Regions from separate parts of the Homo sapiens genome. Here region 2 is linked to region 1. Evidence: fine-mapped expression QTL. A gene starts in region 1. The other region holds a variant in brackets. All regions are shown on one strand. Distances are from middle to middle.

The links. PIP is the estimated chance that this variant, and not a neighbour inherited with it, causes the effect.
Region 2: its variant is the best candidate, but not a certain one, in a credible set for the expression of IL12RB2 in whole blood (INTERVAL, PIP 0.54).

The regions. Positions count from the first base shown.
Region 1 is chr1:67,305,663-67,309,912 of GRCh38, forward strand. It overlaps IL12RB2 (interleukin 12 receptor subunit beta 2), which reads left to right and starts at 2,211. Exons shown (of 17, transcript NM_001374259.2): 1 at 2,211-2,305. RefSeq lists enhancers at 1,434-1,533, 1,564-1,613 and a silencer at 2,074-2,263.
Region 2 is chr1:67,274,529-67,278,778 of GRCh38, forward strand. It overlaps the pseudogene DNAJB6P4. Among named protein-coding and RNA genes, the nearest start is that of IL12RB2, 31 kb to the right of the region's middle. The variant T/C (reference allele first, on the strand shown) is at 1,910.

The DNA of each region.
Region 1 (4,250 bases):
CACTGTACTCTAGCCGGGGCAACAGAGTGAGACGCTGTTTCAAAAAAAAAAAAACAGAAAAACATATGTATATTTATATGTGTGTATATACACACACACACATATGCACACACAAATATATAAATTAAATTTTTAAATGAGATAGAGTAAAATGCATTTTTGAAATTATTGATTTATTAACAAAACTAAAAGCCTTCCTTCTCACTAAAAAGTGTTGAAAAATCCATGAATTATGCAAGATTGTTATAACATTTGGCTATCATAATCTTATTCTTGATATCAATCAGTTTTTAAAGTAATGAGAAGCTGCTGCATTTTTATATTTTTTAACAAATGGATTTAAAATCCACTGAACTGCTCAATTAAAAGATTGAAACAAAATAGCAAATTGTTTCCGAGTTTTTAAAAGCATTTTCTGTGATGACAATCATAAAATCTTCAGTAAGAAAAACACACAATAATGGGAACACTTCGAAATATTTGTTTTCAAATCGTCTCTTCATAACAACGTATCACTTGGTGTGAAAATTACCTTGAAGAAACAACAAATAAACCTCTGGGGTTTTTTGTTCTTCAAAAAGATCTATTAGATAACATGTACTGAGAGCCATATATCAATACAGAAAAGATCAGCAAATTTAGGATATTTGGGGTTTTTTTGTAAAAATAAAGAAAATAACTCACTTTAAGACAACTTTTAAAATCTTTGTTACAAATGATTTCTACAATTATGTATCATCTCATTACAAAGTAATATTAAGATTCTAGATTCTACGATTTAAAAGATTTTAGTAAAATTATTCATGTAGATAAATTACTAAAGCATGTAAACTACAGTATGTCACAATCCCATAAAGACAATCTACTGTACATTGTTGATTCCAAGATGTACATTTTTCATATTTAACATCTCAAACATTGAGAGCGGTTTTAAGGTAATGCCCAGAAGCGTGGTATGCAGTTGTCCACTTCTGCGGGCTCAGCAAACCTGTACTGGGCTCAGTGGACTAGAAGAAAACTCCAGAGACAACGGGGTGGGGGAGGGGGGGGGACTTAAAAAAAAATTCGATAGATAATATACATATGTTTAAAATCTAAATTTTATTTAGAGATATCTAAATAAAATCTCTAAACTAAATAAAATTTTAGTTTAAAAGATTCTAAATGTTGAGAAAGCATTGTTATTGTTTACCTGGCAGTTCTTTTTATTTCTTACTAGCGCATAAATAATGGTATATCTTATAATTAAGGAAGTCTTAGATTTAAAGAAATCTAAGCTGACGGGTGCAGAGGCTCAGGCCTGTATTCCCTGCACTTTGGGAAGCCAAGGCGGGAGGATTGCTTGAGGCCAGAAGTTTGAGACCAGCCTGGGTAACAGAGTGAGAGTCTGTCTTTACAGGTTTAAATACAGTTTTTTTCTAAGTAATATTGTCATAAATATTATGTCATGAATATTATGCAGAGCTGCCGACCCCTCTGTACTCTGGGCAGTTTTCCCTCTTGCCTGAGAACACCACTTATAACACGGGACCTATACGGGAGTGGTGACACGCCATCTGTTCAAGTTTAACTTTTTTCTCATTTTTTAGACAGCAAATACAAATGGAAGTTCCAGTATGTTCTGCCCGCACTCCAGTGGGCGGTCTTGTGCACAGCCCACTTGGGAGGCCTCGGCGCTCAGGTGTGGTAAGAGCTGGGCGGTGCAGAGCACAGAGAAAGGACATCTGCGAGGAAAGTTCCCTGATGGCTGTCAACAAAGTGCCACGTCTCTATGGCTGTGAACGCTGAGCACACGATTTTATCGCGCCTATCATATCTTGGTGCATAAACGCACCTCACCTCGGTCAACCCTTGCTCCGTCTTATGAGACAGGCTTTATTATCCGCATTTTATATGAGGGGAAACTGACGGTGGAGAGAGAATTATCTTGCTCAAGGCGACACAGCAGAGCCCACAGGTGGCAGAATCCCACCCGAGCCCGCTTCGACCCGCGGGGTGGAAACCACGGGCGCCCGCCCGGCTGCGCTTCCAGAGCTGAACTGAGAAGCGAGTCCTCTCCGCCCTGCGGCCACCGCCCAGCCCCGACCCCCGCCCCGGCCCGATCCTCACTCGCCGCCAGCTCCCCGCGCCCACCCCGGAGTTGGTGGCGCAGAGGCGGGAGGCGGAGGCGGGAGGGCGGGCGCTGGCACCGGGAACGCCCGAGCGCCGGCAGAGAGCGCGGAGAGCGCGACACGTGCGGCCCAGAGCACCGGGGCCACCCGGTCCCCGCAGGCCCGGGACCGCGCCCGCTGGCAGGCGACACGTGGTGAGTGACCAGTGACTCGGGGTCGGGGACAGAGAGAGCCCCAGGATCCCGGACCAGCGGGGTGTCTGCGTGCCCGGGATTCCGTGTCTCGCGTCTCCCGAGGGGGCTTCGGCGACGGCTTCTCTCTTTATATATATATATGTATATATATATTTTTAAAGTCTTCCAATACGATCCGAAATGGCTTCTCTTCATCACAGTCCTAACGCCCTGGGCACAGATGTTCACTTGGAGGTACTGGGTGGTGGTTTGGCTGGATGGAGGGGAGGGAGCGCGCGGACTGAGCCTCCAAGGTACTCTCTGGGCCGGGGCACAGAGTGGTGGGCTCAAACGGAAGGGAGGGGACGGCGACTGGAAAAGGGCAGAGGGCACCCCTGAGGGTCCAGCCTTGGTTCAGGCCCACAGACGTGGCTCCCGTTGCTTGAAAATGTATCAAATGTGAGTAAGATATTGGGGGGGGCCTTCCGTAGTCCCGGATGAGGGTGAACTAACCTTGTCTCAGCAGTCTTTCCTGTGGCCTCTGGACTGACCCCGAGTCCCTGCCTGGCCAGTTACTAGCAAGATGCTCTGGTGCAAGCAAATTGGCCAGCCTCAGTTTTCTCTTCTGTGAAATGCCCCTTCCTTTGTGAACTATGAGGCCCTCCTCATCTCCCTAGGACACACTAAATATCAGTGTCAGCATTGTACGGGATTATGTATCTGTACCATTAGATCCAGGTCTTACAAATAGTAACCTAAAAGCATACAAATAGACCTTGTCTAAGAACAGGGTCCCGGCACGGTGGCTCACGCCTGTAATCCCAGCATTTTGGGAGGCCAAGGTGGGCAGATCACTTGAGGTCAGGAGTTCAAGACCAGCCTGGCCAACATGGTGAAACCCTGTCTCTATTAAAAATACGAAAATTAGCTGGGCATGATGACGCACACCTGTAATCCCAGCTACTCGGGAGACTGAGGCAGGAGAATTGCTTGAACCCGGGAGACAGAGGTTACAGTGAGCCAAGATGGGGCCACTGCACTCCAACCTGGGCAACAGAGCGAGACTCTGTCTTAAAAATAAATACATACATACATATACATATATATATATATACACACACACACATACACATATATATATAAAGAATAAAGCTAAATTAGTCCTTTTTTCCCCATTTTTAAAACTCTAGATAATTGTTATAATCTGCTATGTGTGTGCTCTGTGTAGATGAACATCTTTGTTGAGCACCTACTATGTATTTGGTTTTTGGATATATATTATCTAATTCCTTAAAAACATGGTGAAATTGTTATTAGTATTCCCATTTTACAGATGTGGAAACTTACATGTTTCACACAGTTAGAGAGTTACAGGTTTCTGGCTCAAAACTGTGTTCCTTCTGTTTCCACCTCTCTGGCTCAGAACCTTATAACCACCTCCACTTGAACAAACAAACGTTGGATTCTCATTTTCCATTAATAGGAATGGTACAGTGCCCTATTTCTCTGTCCAACACATAACTAAAAGGACCTTAGTGGCTAAGAGCTAACACTTTCCTTCCCTATTTTAATGTGAAATCCTCAATACATTACACTATCTGTTAGGCACAACAGCCTCCAGAAAAGTTTGCAATATGCTCTTTTCCATATGTCATGCCTCTTGAATGTCATGTTCATTACATAGGCTGATAAATTCCCAAACTTTGACAAACGGAATCTTTTCTGTATTAGAATGAGTTTTAGTGTGAAAAAAAATTCGAAAGCACACATGTAATTTTTAAGGTAGAAGAATCCGCCAAGTACAGTAGGTATTGGGCATCATTTCTCAGTTGTGGACTTATTTTTGTATTGCTGCACCTGCTTTGTTCTCTACCAAATTATTTGTCATCTTTGTAATTACGCTCACAGCACTGCTGTCAACTCCTACAAATAAATTTGTGCAGAATGGCGGGACACGGTGTCTCAT
Region 2 (4,250 bases), 31 kb before region 1:
CTAAAATAGAACTAAAATTCTAATACTTTTACTTGTATAAATGCTTATAATTGTCATCTTTGCATCTCAGCAATTATTCCTGGATAAATATACTGCAAATCATCTAAGAAGAGAAAAACCCCTCTGAATTACATGACTGAGTTTCAGAATGTGAGTAAAGTATGGCTAACCAAAATGTTCAAGCAAACTGATGCAAATTTCCTTTTCTATGACTGTGTAAGCAAAACTCTTTTGCACGATACTAAGTTTGATGTGGTGTAGCATGTAAAAGAGAAAGCACCTTTATCTGTGTTTGAGTGGAAACCAGGTAACCTTGTCATAAACTGGGGAAGAAATGACTTAAGTGTCAGCTCCCACATCTCCTGCTGTGAATAGCCTTTAGGGGTGTCATAACCACGAACACACAAACTTGACAGAAACTAAATCTCAGTGCACAAAGAAAATGTATCTGCAATGAATTCATATTGGGCTCTTCCCACACATTATTTAACTTAATCTTCCAAACAAGCTGTGAGGTAGATATTATTATCACCATTTTACACTGAGGAAACTGAGTCAGAGAGATGCTTTTTCTTGCCCAGCACCACTTAGGTCATAAGTGGTGGAGCTGGTTTTGAATGTATTCACCTCGCTCGCACCCCATGTGTCTGTGCTGTACTATGAATTCCTCAAGGGATGGGGACTGGTATTTAGCTTGTGTCTTTAAATTGTCATGAAAGACTAGAGGCTTCTTCTTGGTAGTAAGAAATAACGTGTACAATACCAAGAATATAGCAATTGTACTCAAGAGTATATTAAGGTCAGCGGGTGTGTGTAATAGAGGAATTATGAAAGACATATCTGTGAAACATGCTGAGATTCAGCAGTAATAAATTGTTTAAAAACTAGGCTTGAGAAGATGATAAGAGCTATTTATGACAAACCCATAGCCAATATCATAATGAGTGGGCAAAAGCTGGAATCATTCCCTTTAAACCGGCACAAGACAAGGATGCCCTCTCTCTCCACTCCTATTAAACATAGTATTGGAAGTTCTGGCCAGGGCAATCAGGCAAGAGAAAGAAATAAAGGGTATTCAAATAGGAAGAAAGGAAGTCAACTTGTCTCTGATTGCAGACGACATGATTGTATATTTAGAAAACCCCATCATCTCAGCCCAAAAATTCTTTACACTGATAAGCAACTTCAGCAAACTCTGAGGATACAAAATCAATGTGCAAAAATCACAAGCATTCCTATACACCAATGATAGACAAGCAGAGAGCCAAATCATGAGTGAACTCCCATTCACAATTGCTACAAAGACAATAAAATACGTGGGAATACGATTTACAAGGGACATGAAGGACCTCCTCAAGAACTACAAACCACTGCTCAGGGAAATCAGAGAGGACACAAACAAATGGAAAAACATTCCATGCTCATTGATAGGAAGAATCAATATCGTGAAAATGGCCATACTGCCCAAAGTAATTTATAGATTCAATGCTATTCCCATCAAGCTACCAGTGACTTTCTTCACAGAATTGGAAAAAACTACTTTAAATTTCATATGGAACCAAAAAAGAGCCTGAATAGCCAAGACAATCATAAGCAAAAAGAACAAAGCTGGAGCCATCACGCTACCTGACTTCAAACTATACTACAAGGCTACAGTAACCAAAACAGCATGGTACTGGTACCAAAACAGATACATAGACCAACGGAACAGAACAGAGACCTCAGAAATAACACCACACATCTACAATCATCTGATCTTTGACAAACCTGACAAAAAAAGCAATGGGGAAAGGAGCAATGGGGAAAGGACTCCCTGTTTAATAAATGATGCTGGGAAGACTGGCTAGCCATATGCAGAAAACTGAAACTGGATCCCTTCCTTACACCTTATACAAAAATTAACTCAAGA[T/C]GGATTAAAGACTTAAATGTAAAACTCAAAAGCATAAAAACCCTAGAAGAAAACCTAGGCAATATCATTCAGGACATAGGCCTGTGCAAAGACTTCATGACGAAAACACCAAAAGCAATGGCGACAAAAGCCCACATTGACAAATGGAATCTAATCAAACTAAAGAGCTTCTGCATAGCAAAAGACACTATCATCAGAGTGAACAGGCAACCTACAGAATGGGAGAAAATTTTTGCAAGCTAACCGTCTGACAAAGATCTAATATCCAGAATCTACAAGGAACTTCAACAAATTTACAAGAAAAAAACAACCCCATCAAAAAGTGGGTGAAGGATATCAACAGACACTTCTCAAAAGAAGACATTTATGCAGCCAACAAACATATGAAAAGAAGCTTATCATCACTGGTCATTAGAGAAATGCAAATCAAAACCACAATGAGATACCATCTCATGCCAGTTAGAATGGTGATCATTAAAAAGTCAGGAAACAAGAGATGCTGGTGAGGCAGTGGAGAAATAGGAATGCTTTTACACTGTTGGTGGGAGTGTAAACTAGTTCAACAATTGTGGAAGACAGTGTAGCAATTCCTCAAGGATCTAGAACCAGAAATACCATTTGACCCAGCAATCCGATTACTGGGTATATACCTAAAGGATTATAAATCATTCTACTATAAAGACACATGCACATGTATGTTTATTGCAACCCTATTTACAATAGCAAAGACTTGGAACCAACACAAATACCCATCAATAATAGACCGGATAAAGAAAATGTGGCACATATACACCATGCAATACCATGCAGCCATTAAAAAGAATGAGCTAATGTCCTTTGCAGGGACATGGATGAAGCTGGAAGCCATCATTCTCAGCAAGCTAATGCAGGAACAGAAAACCAAACACTGCGTGTTCTCACTCATAAGTGGGAGTTGAACAATGAGAACACATGGACACAGGAATGGGAACACCACACACCGAGGCCTGTCAGGGGGTCAGGGGCAAGGGGAGGGAGAGCATAGGTTGATAGGTGCTGCAAACCACCATGGCACATGTATACCTATGTAACAAACTTGCACGTTCTACACATGTATGCCAGAACTTAAAGTAAAATTTAAAAAATTTAAAAAATAAAAAATAAAAAAAAAATTAAAAAAAAAAAAAACTAGGCTTGAGAGGAAAGCACAAGTAGTCACCACCACCAGCGCAGCAGTGCCAGAGCCAGGAGGAGATCCCGGCCACTGCCCCTGCCTCCCGCCTGCCGTCAGTCGCCTCCATCCTGTTCCAGCAATCTCTTAAAGCATGATGGGTTAGGCTGGGCACAGCGGCTCATGCCTATAATCCCAGCATTTTGGGAGGTCGAGCCAAGTGGAACACCTGAGGTCAGGAGTTCAAGACCAGCCTGGCCAACGTGCTGAAACCCCGTCTCTACCAAAAATATAAAAATTAGCTGGGCATAGTGACACAAGTCTGTAATCCCAGCTACTCAGGAGGCTGAGACAGGAGAATGTCTTGAACCCCAGAGGCGAGGTTGCAGCGAGCCAAGATGGTGCTACTGCACTCCAGCCTGGGTGACAGAACGAGACTCTGTCTCAAACAAACAAACAAAATCATGGTGGATTACTATGAAATTCTAGGAGTGTGGAGAGAGGCCTCACCCGAGGATATTAAAAAGGCACACCAGAAACTGGCACTGAAGTGGCACCCAGATGAAAATCCTGAGAATAAAAAGCAGAGAGAAAATTCAAACAAGTAGCTGAGGTGTGTGAGGTGTTGTCAGATGCTAAAAAACGGGACATCTATGACAAATATGGCAAAGAAGGATTAAATGGTGGAGGAGGAGGTGGAAGTCATTTTGACAGTCCTTTTGAGTTTGGCTTCACATTCTGTAACCCAGATGATGTCTTCAGGGAATTTTTTGGTGGAAGGGACCCATTTTCATTTGACTTCTTTGAAGAACTCTTTTGAGGACTTGTTTCAGAATCAAAGGGGTCCCCGTGGAAGCAGAAACCAAGGGTCGGGGTAGTTTTTCTCCACATTCAGTGGATTTCCATCTTTTAGAAGTGGATTTTCTTATTTTGATATAGGATTTATTAATACTTCATTTGGGTCACTCGGTCACGGGGGCCTCACTTCATTTTCTTCCACATCATATGTTGGTAGTGGGATGGGCAACTTCAAATCGATAACACTTCTACTAAAAAGGTTAATGGCAGAAAAATCACGATAAAGAGAATTATCAAGAATGGTCAAGAAAGAGTAGAAGTTGAAGAAGACAGCCAGTTAATGTCTTTAACAATAAGTGTTAAGGAGCAGCTGCTGCACTTGGATAACAAGTA